Linked DNA regions of Homo sapiens: region 2 is linked to region 1. Evidence: fine-mapped expression QTL. A gene starts in region 1. The other region holds a variant in brackets. All regions are shown on one strand. Distances are from middle to middle.

Region 1 (8,337 bases):
CAGCAACAATTTCCAAATTATTCTTCCAAAACCAGAGTTATGAGACCAGTACAAGCTGATAACAATGCTAATGGTCACACAAGTTTCCATGTTACACAGAAAAAAAGATTGACATTCTGGTGAAGGGTCTCAAGTACCTTACCATATCAGAATTTTTGAAAGAGTTTTACAACAGAACAGTCTCTCTCTTGTTTTGTAGATGCAAGGGAAAGGAAGCATCCCTCTCATTTCTTTTTGAGACTCCTTGTTAATTCTTAAAACACATTTCTAAGGCCCATCTCTGGAACTTCATTAGTTAACATTAAAAGCAAAAAGCAGACCTGATGTGATTATGATAGTGCACCCCATCACTATCACCATCAAAAGAGACTACCAATCTCCCAAAGTAGTCACGGTTGCATTGGCATAGTGTCTTGGATTTTCAATAAACAATACAGGTGAAAAGAGAGAGATACAGATGAAACCAGGTTGACCATAGCTGATAAGTGATGCAGCTAGGTGATGGACACATGGGGTCCAAGGACCATCCTCTCCACTTCTGTGCATGTCTGAAAATGTCCATAACACAGAGCAAAAAAAAAAAAATAATAACAAAAAACAAAAAAGCAGACTTGCACATCTGTATCTTCCCATTAGACTAAAATGGGGAAAGTCGTAAGACTTTAAAGGCAAAATGTGCAGCATATAGCATTCTTCTGCATGTACAAAGCCACACCTAGAACAAAAAAATAAAGCATCCAAAGTAACATTATTCCGTTTCTGGTTTGTCTCTGTGGCTTATAAAATCTACTAATGATAAGATTGGACAAAACTTTGGGAACATCCTCAACTAGGCATCCTATTTGTTCATAACCCCTTCAATTCTCATTTTCCAAGCTAGGGAGGTCCCTCCCATACTCTATCACTGAGAGACAGGCATGCTCCCCCTGCGGCTTCTCAAGCCATTTCTGTCTGATTTTGCAGGCCCACTCCATACCAGTATCATGCCTACTCGACGGTTTTGCTCCAAATCCCCCACCTAGCACACCCTTGCTACAGCTTTAAGCCAAGGACTCTCTTGAGGAACTTAGAATGAGGCCTCCCTAACAAAAGAGAAGGTAGGGAAGAACAGGTGTAGATACAGTCCTTCTTACCCACCCTCAGGGATAAGAGAGGGAAAGGCCCAGCTCTGCTTTTACACCCACTGGAAATAACCCGGAGATCCAAAACAGATTCTGCCCATCCCAATCCCCATCCCCCAGGAGAAGCTTGAGATGCTCCATATTGGAGACTAAAGCCCACTCCTGGGGCTATTTGAGGTAGAAGCAAAGAGAGCAAAGGACTGCTGAAAGTGGGAAAGCTGGGGATTGAGGTCCAGATGGCCAGAGGCTACCACAAAGGAGGAAACAGCAGGAGGCACTTGGGTCTTAGGAAGCATTAAAACAAAGTCAAAACAAGAGTAAACACTAGTCTATGACATGGCTGCCTTGGGGTTTATAACTCAAGCAGATGCTAGGCATGAAAAGGATTTTCAACTTCAGAACTGTAGAGCAAGCGCAGGAGACAGGTTCAGGGTTTGCCAGCAGATCCACTTGGCCTTCTGGTTTCCTCAACTCTCTTTCAACCTAGTATGTGTGCGCAGTGCCAAGTTCTCAGCTACCTCCCCAGCTGTATGTAGAAAAATGTGGTTTTTCAGTTGTTTTCTCTGTGGTACTATTTAAACAAAATAAAAAAGAATAAGGAAAGAAGGAAGGGGAAGGCAGAAGGGGAGGAAAGGAGGCTACCAGGAAAGGGAGGGAGGAAAGAAGAATGAGAGGGAGGAAATGAGGGATGAAGGCAGGCAAGCAAAATAAGAAGTATAAGTGACCTGAAGTCAAGCAAGCAGAGGCCCACAAATCAGAAATACCTCTTCCCAGAACCCCTACTATGGCACTCTGCTCACATCTTAGACGGGAATAAGGGAAGTTGACAATGGTATCTGGATTCTATATAGGCCCAGTCCTCACCCTCACCTGGAGCCACAGCATAATGACAGTGAACACATGTCCACACATACCAGCCCGCCCATCAGTCTGGCAGCCAGTAGGGTTCCTGGAAAGCTGGGGAGGGTAGGTGTGTGTCTCATGCACTGGTAGGGGGCCTCGGTCCACAGGCAGTTCTTGAGGTCCTTGTTGACCAGGAAGCCAACTGGGGCTGACAGCAACCCAGACAAAACTTAATGGCTTGATAGTGACACGGCATGGCGCAGATCTTGATGAAAGTTCACCAGTAGAAGGGCCCAGAAGCAAGAAGAGACACATGATGGTACAGAACACATGGCATACTGTTTCTTGCCCTTAACTTCATGCATGCCCAGCAGTCAAGTGCCATTCTGCAGAACATCAAGCAGGATGGGTATCACAGACCACAGGCCAAAGCCAGAAATAAAGCAGGTGACATCTCAGCTGGTGACCCCAGACCCACAGAACAGGAAGTTCTGGCTGATGACTAATACCATGTGCACTGGCTTCATTCTGCAGTGGCAATGGAAACGCTTGCATAGATGACATGCATGGCCAGCATGAACACGAAGCCCAGCAAGTCACTGGCCCTGAAGGAGCAGAGCTTGAGGATGCACTGGTCGTCCTGGAGGATGACTCATGAGTGTCCATGTTAAAGACAAGTAGGAAAGGCCAGAGCCAAGAACAAGGTCCAGGCAATGTAGATAACAGGGAGCACACATCTAAAGTATGTGTGCTTAACATATGAACAGTCCGGGTGCGATCACATAACATGTGACACTAACGTAGAAAAGCAAGAGGCTATGGGAGGCAAAAGAACATGATCATAAATGCCATATTCTTGTAACTAAAGTCCAAAGGGTCTATAGTACACAGAGGCCAACATGAAGAGAAGGCAGAGAGCCAAATATGTAGTCAACCAGGAGCAGCCCAGCAGGAGGTAGCAGGGAGACTTGTGCAGGATCAGTTGGATTGGCTCACCCCAGGCTGAGTAGTCTCCATTGGCTGCTTTCCTGGACCTTGCCTGCCTTCTTTTTCCTTTCCTTTCTCTACACGAGCCCCTTCACTCAAAAGGTAGAACTGCAAGGGATTGGGCCACAATTCTTCGTTGATTATCTCCACAATCTTGTCAGACTCAATGGAGCTGTGGTTTGAAAACCACCCAAAGAAACTACGGTTGTTTTCTGGGTTTCCCTGGCTTAGGGACTGGAGATCATGCCCTGGGAGCCACTGGATTGGAGTAGAACGAGACACCACCTGGCCAGAAGGACCACACCCATATTCCTTGATGAGCACCTTATTTTGGAAATACGGGTTGCGATCGAAGTAGAACTTGATTTTGTAGCCCAATCTGGCAAGGCCGAGCTCTTCCACTTCCAAGCTGTTTAAGTAGCTCAGTACCTCTTTCTCTTGGCTATTCAGAAAGGATGCTAGCTGGGGATGGTTCTGAAATGCTTGCCCCCAGAAGCCCGGGATATTTTGGATGAGGTGGTTCCTGCGCTCCAAGTGCTGCAGTCGCAACTGCCCAAACTTCCTGGAGAGCCGAAGGTAGGCCCTGTCCGCCTGGGCGTTCATGTTCTCCAGCTTCAGCTGCACGTTCTCCAGCGTATCCATGCTGCCTTCCGTCGCTGGGGGCCCCGACCCTGCATCCCTCTCTTCCTTCTTTTCCTCCCCAGCTGACACCGAGGTATTCTCCCCTGCCGCCCCTTTCTTCTGCCTCCCACCAGCTATGACCTGAGGCCCCCTCCCCGCGGTGCTACAGGTTTCTGGGGCCTTCTTCCCGGCAGGGCCACGCCGGTTTCCAACGCGGGGGGCATTTTTCGGCCTTCCCACGGTTCCCGCTGTTCCCACGAAGACAGTGTCTGCGGCCAGGCGCTCCGAGAGAGATGCGGCCTTCCCCGGGCCGGGCCTGGCCGCGGCCTGCCCGTGGTCCCCCGCAGCTCGGGCCCGCAGCGCGAGGCCACAGTCCAGGGGGAGCCGGCAGGCGGCCTCCTCCCCGAGCCGGAGGAGCTGCGCGGACGCAGCGGCTTCCAGGCCACCCCACCCCGCGCCAGCCTGCACCTGTGCCGCCTGGGTGTCTTCCCCGAGACTCTGGTACTGTGAAGGGTCCGGGTCGCGCGGGGCGTCGTCCGGAGCAGGGCGGACTCGGGCTTTGGCGCGGCCTTTGCCCCGGTTTTTGGCGCGGGAGGACTTTCGACCCCGACTTCGGCCGCTCATGGTGGCGGCGGAGGCAGCTTCAAAGACACGCTGTGACCCTGCGGCTCCTGACGCCAGCTCTCGGTCGGGACCGAGCGGGTCTCTCCACGGCAACCGCCGACGTCACGAACGTACAACTGTACCGTCGCGAGAGGACGTGATGCGCCCGGTGATTGGCGCCGCCGCTGCGGCTGCGCAGGAGACGACCCCCGCGGGCGCTCCCACCCCCATCTCGCGCGGACTCGCTTTAGGTCTCGGCGAGTTTCTCTGATATGCGCTCGCGGGGGTGCTGCCATTTCATCTCTTCCGCGCGGGCTCATCGTGCTCTCAGGGTCTCGTTGAACAAGGCAACGCTAAGAGCCATCACCACCTGTCCCCCATCACCTGTTTTCTAAACTAAACATCTTCAGCTCCTCCAGTTATCTCTTGTGGCATCTGTCATGAAGAAAGTGCTCGGGCGTGTGTGTCTCTCTTTGAACACCTTTGCTGAGGGATTTGCTCTGGTACCTTAACTCCAGAGAACGTAAAGGTGGATGCTATAATGCCGGGCGTCAAAGCGATTTGGTACGCAGTAAGATGATAGTAGAAATTATAAAAATAATGGCAACTAGTATTTTGTATCATTTGTGCCAGGCACTTTACTAGGTGCTTTAAATGCATTATCTCAATTTACAAAGGAGGTGTTGATATCATTCCCATTTTCGAGATAAGAAAACTGCATCTCAGAGACACCCGGGCACATTCCCCAGGTTACACAGTAAGGGATGGAAGCACAATTCAAACTCAAGCCCATGGGACTCCGTATCCTATGCCTTATATTTGGAAATGGCAAGTCCTTCCAGACTTGTTCCACTGTCAATTACTGGGCTGGCTCTTAAGAAATCAGCCTTGCTCCTTAACAAACAGGCTTCCGTGGACCACCTGACCACCTCTTCTGCCTGGGAACATCACCCGAGTCCCCCAGCTGCCTCAGTTTACAGATCTGGACTATCACTCTAGGTATAGGACCAGAAGTGAAGACCTGTATTAGAGCTCCTGTAATTGGAGTAAGACAAGAATGTGGTGAGAGGTGAAATTATTATTCAGGGAGCAGATTGAGGTTCAGAAGCAGAGCCTCCACGTGGCACTGCAGAAGCCCTAGAAACTTCTTACACTGTGCATGGAAACAGCCGGACAACCTCCCCCACAGTCCCGGAGGCAGCCCTGGACCACGCTCTTACTAGTGAGGTAATAGGACCATGAACAGTGAGGGGACCTGTGGCTAATGTAAAAATATAAAGAAAAACCTTTTGAGGTGGTCTTTTCAGGCTCAAAGGGAACAAAAAGGCCCTTGTAACCAGCTAGTGGAGAGATAAGCCCAAAAGCCCCGGGACCTCATTACTCAAAGTGTGGTTGTGGACCAGCAGCCTGATATCACCTGAAAGCTTGTTAAAGATGCAGAATCTCAGGCCTTTCCCCAGACCTACTAAGTCAGAATTTGAATTTTAACAAGATCCTGGGTGATTTGTATACACCCCTAAGTTTAAGGAAACAATTTAAAGAGGAATTATTTTTATACAGATGGCCCTATTTTAAGCCGGCCTAATACAAGTGATTCCTCATTTTCTCAAAAGCTCTAGAATAGCCTGCAAGGCCCTGTATGATCTGGCAAGTCTTCTATCTGCCACTACATGAGTTACCTCTCTGACCTCATCTTCTCTCTCCTCTCTCCCACCTCTAGCTACACTGGCTTCCTTGCTGTTCTTAAACTCACTAGGTAAACTCCTGCCTCAGAGCCTTTGCACTGGCTCTTCCTTCTACCTTAAATGCTCTTTCCCAATGTGGTTGGTGGCCTTGGCCAGCTGCCTTCACACTTTGCTTAAATGTCACCTTCTCAATGACCATCCTATTTAGAATTGCCACCCACCCCATCCCTTTATCCTATGGTACTTTTTCTTTATTCCAACACACTATACCAATTATTTATTATGCTTATTAACTATCTCTTCTCTCTAGAATGTCAGCTCCATGAGGGAAGAGATTTTTGTTTTGTTCACTGATGTATCCTCAGTGCCTGCAACAGTGTCTGACATATCAAGAGCACTTAATAAATACTTGTTGAAAGAAAGAACCAATCAAAGCAGAGTTTTCAAAAATGGGTTTGTAAATGATTGTCTGAAGTTCAGAATAGCTCCCCTTTTCCCACAGAAGCAATGCTATGGATGCTGTATTCTCAGATCAACTCATGGAAACCTACTAAACTCATAATTTAGCCAAAAAATTATCTTTTGTTACAGAGCACCATTCAGGGACAGTCTGTAAGTAAGAATTTAGAGTGACAAATTTAAAAATTAAGTTGGGAGATTTAATATTTGACTTAAAAGGGATTAATTAGTGCAAGGATTATCTTAAATTCTTGTTGAAGGCCCTTTCATAATAATTTCTTCCCAAGGCCTTCTGTGATCACCCCAGACCACAATAAGCAGCCTTGTCCTTGATCTCACAGAGTACTTGTTAACTATAGTATTCATTTGGCAGTGGGGCACACCCTGTTTTGTACCAGTTCTTTTACAAAATTACCTCTTAAGCTAGATAATCACAGCCTGAAACTCTCCGTAAACCTCAGAAAAAAAATTAAAAAATCATCTGACGCATTTGCCAACCCTCTATAGACTTTAGACATTGATGGGTTGGCCCACTTCTTAGAACACTCACAGATCAACCCATCTCTGTTGTCAAGAGTCTTAATCCAGCGTCAGCATCTGCGTCATGTAGCAGTCACCAATGGCTAAACCACTGTAGGATTAACACAGGGCTGGGCCATTGCAATGTGTTTATTATACAATCTGCCTTGAGCCTTTTTTCATCATGTCAAAGAGATAAGCATCAGATGAAGGGAAATAATTTAAAAAAATACCCCTCTGCTCTAAGCCACCCAGTTCCCCATGGCTTTTGTATTTAAGAGTTTGGTCTGTGCTGCTGAACTGGACTGTGTTTTCTTCTTGGGTCTTAATATTTAACTTTATGTGGAACTGTAGTTTGTGTTCCTAATTGGATAGTAAACTGTGTAAGTGTGGAGACTGTGTCTCTTTTTACTTTTATCTCTCAGAGTACCTAGCATGGGGCCTTGCACATACCAGTAATTATAATGAAAGTTTACATTTATTTCATACTTTTATATAGTGCTATGCCTTAACTCATTTAATCTCTGCAATCACCCCATGGGGCAGGTGCAATTATTGTTCTCGTCTTGGAGGAGGTTACTGCCACACAAAATGGTTCCATAACTTGCCCAAGGTCACACAGTTAATAAATGTTTTTTGCCCAAGCGATGCGACTCCAGCACCGTGCTCTTAATTAAAAATACATAATGTAAAATTATGGCTTAAGAGATTAAAACTCTCTCCAGTGGGTAAAAATACCTTTTAATGTTAAAAAAATTATATATATTAAAAATATATATACACACACATATGCAGATGCATACATATACACATAATACATACATCATTTAGTTATGAGTCATTTATTTATGGGGTATACAATATACCTGGCATAGCAATACTCAACATAAATTTAGTTTCAACAGCCCATGATGAGAACGAAGCATCTCTATTTGCACTGCATTTATCATAAGCATCCTGTTAATATTATGAAAGAAATGCAAGTTTACTGTCATGAACTCAGAGATCCTGGAGTGTTGTGAACTTCTTGCAATATCTGCAGGCTTAAGTTGATGGTAATATAAGCATTTAATTGATTATTTCTAATGTAATATTTATTAGCAAATATTTATTAGAAATTCATAAAATATTTTTCAAATGTTTATGTGTATTATGTCTATATGTATGTATATGCATATGTACTTGTGTGTATGTAATTCAAAATATTAGAATAAAAAATCTTCACTTTTGTTTTCTGCATATTGTGCTTTCTCCGTTCCTTTTGATATGTTTTCTTTGAATCACAGAAATTTACAAGCTGGGAAAAAGACATTTGTCATCCAGCCTATTCCTCAGCCAAGGGAACAATATTCCCCATCATTTCTCTCGTAGAGCTTTAGGATCCCAGACTTGACATTTTTAGCCACAGCACTTTTCTATTCTTCCCCAAGGAGAAAGTTTAAGTCTGTTAGATAGCAGTGAGTATTGCTTACTGTGTGGAATTTTGCCAACCAACCCTC
Region 2 (8,337 bases), 190 kb after region 1:
AAACCTCAATAAAGATGAAAAAGAGAAAAAAAGGACCCACTCTAGAACAAACATAAGAATTACAAAATAAGAAAAATAAAGTAACTAGCAAAAGCCTCTAGCATCTTAAAACATCAATTATAAAAAGCCAGTTACTATCAAGTTTTCTTTGATTCCTTTATCGAAATGAATAATTCTTCACTAGTGGCCATCAAGCTCAGCCCTTCCCCTTTCAACAAAAATCTTTGTGCAAACTCTATTGAATTCAAATTTTCTACAACAAAAATACATCATCAGATTGCTCCAAGGGCCCTGATGACATTTTCTTAGTAGCACAAGCACAGTGGTAACTAATATCTCATTTACTATATGTTGAGTATAAAAAGTCATTGGTCTGGAGACCCCCTAAAACACCAAATATTTTTCTAAAATCATTAGCATTTTCCCTATGAAATGAGAATATTATATATTGAACCATATTTGTTATTTGTATTCTAGCTACTTGAAAAAAGCACCTGAGGTGGTTGAGACAATAAACATATATACTTCTCAATCATTAAAATATGGATAAAATATCAGCTGGGCTTGTTGGATCATGTGTGTAATCCCAACACTTTGGGAGGCTGAGGCAGGAGGATCACTTGAGCCCAGGCATTCAAGATCAGCCTGGGGAGCAAAAAATAAAAAAATTAGCCAGGCATAGTGGTGCCAGCCTGTACTCCCAGCTACTCAGGAGACTGAGGCAGGAGGATTGCTTGAGTCCAGGAAGTAGAGGCTGTGGTGAGCCATGTTTGTGCCACTGTACTCCAGCCTGGACAACACAGCAAGACCCTGTCTCACAAATAAATAAATAAAATAAGGAGAAAATATCATAAGTATGTACTTGAGAAGAGGAAGATTATTATACTAGAAGCCCAGGCTAAGGGGAGTTACTATAAATGAGTCCTAAATCTTGTTTTAGATTTTTCAGTGGCAAACAGGAAATTTGGTGAACATTATAACTCTCACTTATTAAAACAGAAACAAAGCTTTTTCTTTTGTACTAAAATCTAAGAGAAAATTATTGTATGAATCCTTATATAAAGAACACTAAACAACAATAGGCAACTTTTAAGGCAATTTTAGGGAAGCAAACTTTTTTTCATATGAACATTTCATATAACCTCAAGGGGATCATATTAAATAATCATTTTATGAAGGTTGTTCTCCAGAGAAATAAACTAATATAGTCCAGGTATGTGATTTTTCTGGAGCTGTAATTTGATGAGGAGATATAGCCTGGAAAATCTAAAAGATTAGATTATTAGAAGTTCTGTTAGATAACCTTAGTCAAGTATAAAACACTGTGGCTGTGTCTTTAACAGACAACTAAAGACTGAGCTCCCTTGAGTGTGTCTATTTTCTGGTCAACACCTAAAATCAGACCTGCATGCTTTTGATAACAGAAGTGCAAAGAGCCAGATGCCACTTGGTTAAGATAATCAAAAAGCAGCACAGTGGATCTCAATCATGATACTTGCCCTGCCCAGAGCCCTTGCAGACATCTTTGCTGAAGGGGTTGTACCACATGTACCTAGCCAAAGCTAACTGGACAGGGGCAGTCACCTAACTTAAAGGCCAATAAGCCATAGGCCAATTAGGCCCATGATATGTGTAGGGGAGAAAAAGCAGTATCTTTTACTTATCCATCACAAGGTTCATGGCTGAGGCTCCTATCATAAAAGACAGGTTAACAAGAGAAAAGCACACACATTTATCTAATAGATGTTTTATGTGGCTCCGGCACCTTCAGAAATGAAGACCCAAAGAAATAGGGAAATATGTATTTGTATGCTTACGTTTGATGAAGAGTAGATGGTTGAGGAGAGGTAAGATCGAAGGATAATAGGATATGATCTAATAGCAATAAACTGGGGGAAACTTAGCAAGGCTGTTCAGATACTTCTCTGGGTCCGTGTCTTCGGAGATAAGGATGTTGTTTTCCTTTAGGTATAGGACAGGCACTTCTGGAATGATAATTTTATGACCTCTTTCAGGGAAAGTTTAGCTGGGTTTTATGGCCTGATTCAAGGGAAGAGGAGCAAGGAAAAGGTGAGAGTGACCTCCCTGCTTCTTCTGTTCCTCAAATGACAAGCTGCCATATTTTGGGGTAGCATGTCTTGAGCCCCATCACATGGCTTGGCTTGAAAACATAAACTTGTCCATTCTGATTGGCTCTCTTCATCATTTAAACAAACAAACAAACAAACAAAAAATACTGAGATTGGGACAGAAGCTATGAGAAGCAGAAGATTTGAGGCAGATGAGTGCATGGAGATAAAGATGAGAAATCTGAGCAAAAAGGATCCAAGGGTGTTTTCCAGAGGGGGCTGACCCACGTGCATTTCCAAGCTCTAGAATTCAGATCATTCTGCTTCTCTCCACTCTATGGGTCCTGCCCTTTCCTGTCTGGTTCTTCAGTTTTTCCTAGCTTTCTCTGTGTATGTACCCTTCAAGTAAATGGTGAATTACCTAAAGTAATTTGTCTAAGTCACTTTTTTTGCACCCAAAGCAGATAAATTAAAATATATTATTTTATCTATGGAAAGAGCTTTTCACCTTTACTAGAGATTAGCTAAATCAATCTTTTGGGGCTCTGTTTAGCCAGAGGCAAAATTGTTCTCCAGCAGCATCCTCTTAGGAGCCTGGAAAAACTGAAATCAATTGAAGCCCCTGAGTTTTCACCATGAAGTACAAAAGAAACAGATTTAACCTGAGATAAATATTTAAGGACAAATATTACCAGTTTTCTGTCTTTATGGGGAAAAAGAATGATAGTACAAGTCTCTTGAATATCTGATTTTAAGCAGCATGGCTTCCTGGCCAGGACCAGGGTTGGTTAACTGCAGATGGGTTAGTCCTAGATAATCCAATATATTTTGTGTTACAGTCCATCTAAATATTGAAAAATGTCAATCCCAAGTAACAATTTTGATTTCAAAGTACTAATGAAAGTAAAATAAAAGATAATAAAGTTGACTAAAGACATTTTCTGGGAACAGACAGCCTGGATTTAAATGCTGGCTCCTAAATCTGCTAGATGTGGAAACTTGAACAAGTTTCTGCATCTTCATTTCCTCATCTGTAAAATGGGGACGGTTATAGTACCTTTCCAAGTGAGTGATTATGACTTTCAAACAAAATGATTTATGGAGATCAGTTAGTACAGTGCCTAGCATACAGCAGGCACTCAATAACTGTGAGTTATTACTAACACTCCTTCTGGGTTATCTTCTTTTAGTTACTCCAGTCACTTTATTCAAAGATACTGTACTTGGGAGTCATCTTTAGAAAAGTTTTAAAGAAGCAAAATCAAAAAGCAAAACATACAGAAGGTAGTTTGCATTAATATGGTAACATGAAGCTATTTGGGACTGAAGTGCATGGATTTGAAGAACTAGAGTTCCAAGGGCTCAGTGGAGGATGAAGAAGCCATTTTATGATAGTGAAGATGTAAACATCCATTCAAAGATCTGGCATCCTGGAGGAAAATACCTATATTTTTAAAATAGGTATTTTAAATTGGCTGGGTGTGGTGGCTCACACCTATAATCCCAGCACTTTGGGAGGCCGAGACAGGAGGATCGCTTGAGCCCAGGAATTTGAGATCAGCCTGGACAACATGGCAAGACCGCATCTCTACAAAAAAATATAAAAATTAGCTGGGCATGATGACACACACCTGTAGCCCCAACTACTAGGGAGACTGAGGTGGGAGGATCACTTGAGCCCAGGAGGTTGAGGGTGCAGTGAGCCATGATCATGCCACTGCGCTCCAGCCCAGGCAACAGAGTGAGACCCTGTCTTAAAATAAATAAATACAAAGACAAATTAATTAAAACAACAACAAAACTACTTTTTAAACACCTTCTGTTCTTTTATTATTTTCACACTCACTATTATTGCTGCTAGGTTCTTAAAAGCTTGTGTCAACACAATTTCTTTACCTTCCCAAAATAAAATCCCCAATCTAAGCACCCGTAGTTGACACTATCAATGTCCCACTTTTACTCTTTATCCACAGCCTTCTCACTGCAGGTATCTGCATCTCTGTTCCTGCAGGTTTTTTATAGAACCAAAGTGTTGCTCCCCACCAAGTGGCAGAACAAAAGTGCTAGGAAGAAATACCCTACCCTTGGGAATAGCCTTCAACCAAAGACTTTTGGGAGTCAGTGTATAAATACCCCAGCTCCCTCACTCTTCAGATAGAATTCAAAGACAAGTGTTTTACCCGACTTCTCAGGGATTTCCTGCAGAATTAAGCCCTAGTCACCCACAGTAGTTGCTGAGTTAATAACACACCCTTATTGGCTGTCTTTTCTTCTCAATATTACTTTTCCACTCCCACCCCTAATGTTCCCTGCACCTCTTAAATAAACTACTTGCCTTGAATCCTTGTCTCAGGGTCTGTCTATGAGACAACCCAAATCTCTGCAGACATCTTTTTCTTATTAAGCAATCTAAAGTGTCCATGAGAGCAGTTAAAACTCCCAAGCAGCCTTCTGCGTTGATATTTTTTTGCTCTCTTCCCCACAGATTTGCCAAACTGCAGAGATGTCTGTCAAGATGTCGAGCCTAAGAACTGGGAATGAAAAACACCAATGCAGCTGTGCAAAAGGTAGCCTCACTTTTTCATGGGTAGTATCCCAAGAGACAGAGACAGAACTCGGTGGCTGCTTTTCATCTCCACTCTCCAGTACAAAGTGGCTGGATAGCCTTTGCCAAGGTATCAGTTTTCCCATGGTGAGGACTGCCAGGCAATTAGATTCTTGCTCTCTCCAAATTTCAGGAGGAGCACATAAGTTTTATTTTTAACTGTGCAGGAAGATGTTGCCATAGCAACATAACAAAC[T/C]ACAAGAGCAATTTGATTGATTGATGATGTTGTGGGGAAGGAGGACTGGCATGAAAGACACTGAAAAAAATCATTTAGCTTTATCACCCTGGATTGAGTTTATAGATCTTGGTTATTAGACACAGTATGTGACACATGTTTATCATTATGCAAAAGGAAACATAGACCTTTTTCTGCCTTGGTTCCCCAAAGCAAGATGATGACAAACTAGTGAACTGGCCATCAAGAAAGTGAGCTGGTCTCATGAGTTAAAGAGGCATGATAAACGTGGCTGAAAGAACATAGTATTTGCTAGGCAGGCTAGGCATAGTGGAACATTCATATGCCCCACTCATCAATTAATGGGGAACATTCTGCTATTCCCTGCCCTAAAAACATTTCACTTTCAGCCATCCTCTCCTTTCAATTAATCTTCCTCACCAACTTCCTTCCCTACAGCCCAGGGAAGGCAAGGGAGCATGCCAGTAGGGAAGAAGGGGGATATGACTAAAGAGCGGTTCTCATCAGACAGGAAAGGAATGTGGAAAACCTTTTGGTAGGGCAGGGAGAAAGTTTTAGGGCAGCAGCTCTCAAAGTGGTCTGGATTCTCCTGTGAGTCCCAAGATCCTCTCAGGCGCTGCATAAGGCCAAAACTATTTTCATGATTCTACTAAGACATTATTTGCTTTTTACACTGTGTCTACTTCAGGAAGGTACAGTGGAGTTTTCCAGAGGCTACATATGATTATCATTAACAGTTTAAATGTTGAAGCATATATCTTCCATTAGATATATGCTGAAACAGACACTGTCTTCTGTGAAGCCAAACATAAAAGAGGTTTCCAAAAAATGTAAAATGATGCTACTTTTCTCACTAATTGTTTTGTTTCAGAAATATAGTTATTCATTAAAAATGTAATTTATGTTAATAAGTAATGAGATTTTTTATTTTTAAATAAATCAGTAACAGTTTTAATTTCTAATGTGGTTAATATTAATAGAAATAACCCATTTAAGCGGAAATTCTTTGCAGTTTCAATAATTTTTAAGAGTATAAAGGGGCCTTCAAGCCAAAAATCTTGAGGACCAGTCACAAGAGATCAGATTAAGATAACTACGTTACTGAAGTCCCTGAGAAAGGAGTCAGAATCTCAGCACAAGATGGGCTGGAAGGGATTAAAGAATATCCAGTTTGCCGGACAAAGCCTCTGGGAGAAGTTCCACACTCACTCTGGCACCACCATTAACAAGCTCTGGAGCAGTAGAATAGGCAGCAGCAAGGATAGAAGGGCCTGGGTGAACAGTTCCACTTCCGATTACCCATGGCTGCGCTTGGTGTGAAGGGATTCAGAAGCCCAGTGGGGTCCGGCGGAAGTGATAACTCAAAGAGCTGGAATCGTCGTGGAAGCAAGGCAGGAAGACTGCAGACTGTGGTGCTAATCCCCCAAAGGCTTGGGCAGGGACCATTTACTTCCACTAACAGGCAGGAGCCATCCTTCAGCAACATCAGTATCAGATGTCCTATGACCCAACAGGGCCGGGAAGATTCTCGGCACCAGAAGGCGAGGGTCTCGAGCCACAGGCCCCGGTTCTTGCAGCCCATGAGATATCAGCCTCACCATCTTGAGAAGGAAAAAGGGAAAACACCTTGAGGAGCTGAAAGAGGCCCTCTAGGAAGCTTGTGCTTTCTGTTAACTACATATTTACTCACAAAGGACTATGTTATACCGGAAAACCCCAGTTACTAGATTTAAGCAAATTTAAGGTGACTTTTTTCCTACATCAGTTGAAATTTTTGGTCAGAACAATATGAGCTCAACTAATTTTTTTGTACGTATAAATCATAGTGGTTACATTTTGACATCAGCTCAAAGTTCTCTTTCTCTGTTCCTGTCCTATAGAAAGCTTTCCTTAATAATTTCTTCATCTTTTTCCTTTATCGTTCTCATTTTTTTCCTCCATTTGTTTCCCTCTCCTTATCCATCTGCTTTTATTCTCCCTCCTCTATATTCTTTTTTATTGTTCTCTGCCTCAAGCAAGTTAATCGTAGCCTAAACTTACTGACCCAACAGTATTCAAAGCTGTTTTCAAGAGTTGCTAATTCCTGTGTCATTTACTGTGAGCATACAATAGTACACCAGGAACTTTATACAGAGCATTTCATTTAATCTTCACATCAACCCTATATTTAATGTTTATACTTAATGCTTTATTGCAGCTCAGAGTAATGAAATTTGTCCAGTTTACACAACTGGTTATATATGTCAGGGTAAGGATTTAAACCCACACTCGTCAAACTCCAAGCCCATGACCCTTCCTCTATATCAAGCAGCCTCCACAGGTAGAGTATTTTACAAGTTACAGTCCAAGAGCTATTTGCACCCCAATCTTCCCTGCCCTCTCTTACTCTTCGCTTATGACATATGTTTCTCCTGTGCCCATACTCTTCATGAGTTGAGGTTGTAGACAAACCAAGAAATGGGGAGCAGTCACACACAACATTATACCTAGACCATTATCTAAGAATAAAATGCAGAAGCTTTAGCAGTGGAACTCCAATTTGTATTTTTCTTTAATCACATGTGCCTTGGAAGTTGATGATATGACAGAAGTTATATGATGAAGTCAAAGAATTGCCAAAATTCCCAGAATTTCATTAGATACAATTCTTAAATTATCTTTAATTGAGCACTTGCTATGTACCAGGCACACAACTAGTTAATTTCCATATGTTCTCTAATTCAACTCCTGCAACAACTCTACATGACAAATTTTAATTCCCTTTCACAGATGAGAAAACTGAAGCCTTAAGGGTTTAAAATACTTTCTTATGATATCACAACTAGTAAATTCAAACTCAGGTCTGTCAGATTCAAAGCTGAAGTTCTTTTCGCTCCCTGCAACGATTATGTTTCACTGATATGTTACAATCCCACTGCTAGCATGTGACTTGGAGTTATTAGATTTTTTTTTTTTTTGGTATAAACCTTTTAGGATTCAACGTGCCCCCTCAGGCAGAAAACTGCCACATAGAGATGATGCATTGTCCCAGGAATGTGTTTTTTAAATCAGAAACAAATCCATTTCTCTGCTTTTATATTGCATTGATGTCCTTCCTCCTTTTAAAGTTCTCCTGAATGATAGAGGCATTGAAAATCACATTTTGCCTGCTAGTTTTCTTGTTACCATCTACTACCTTTTGGTGCCACCCTCCTCCTTTTTATATTTTTTGAAGAAAATAGTGAAATAGCTTAGATATTAAACTATAAATTATACTAAGATGTGATTTGGAACTGAAATAAACCTCATGCTTTTTTAATGGGAATTTTCAAATACTGAAAATTTATTACCCAAAGGGAAAGACGAGTCTAGACTTTTCTACTTCTCCCCAGTGCCTGGGTGACAAGTGACCTCAGGTTTCACCGAGGAATCACCAGAGGAAAGGGGATAGATTCAAGAATTTCATAATCAGAATGAACTTTTCAAAG

What was found. PIP is the estimated chance that this variant, and not a neighbour inherited with it, causes the effect. A credible set is the group of variants that fine-mapping cannot tell apart.
Region 2: its variant is the best candidate, but not a certain one, in a credible set for the expression of TSPYL5 in whole blood (INTERVAL, PIP 0.80).

Annotation. Positions count from the first base shown.
Region 1 is chr8:97,273,649-97,281,985 of GRCh38, forward strand. TSPYL5 (TSPY like 5) reads right to left here and starts at 4,280. Exons shown (of 1, transcript NM_033512.3): 1 at 1-4,280. The coding sequence starts at 4,196. The coding sequence ends at 2,943. All of the region lies in intron 2 of LOC101927066 (a long non-coding RNA gene), which reads right to left. RefSeq lists an enhancer at 3,317-3,818.
Region 2 is chr8:97,466,324-97,474,660 of GRCh38, forward strand. No RefSeq gene overlaps it. Among named protein-coding and RNA genes, the nearest start is that of SNORD3H, 110 kb to the left of the region's middle. The variant T/C (reference allele first, on the strand shown) is at 4,871.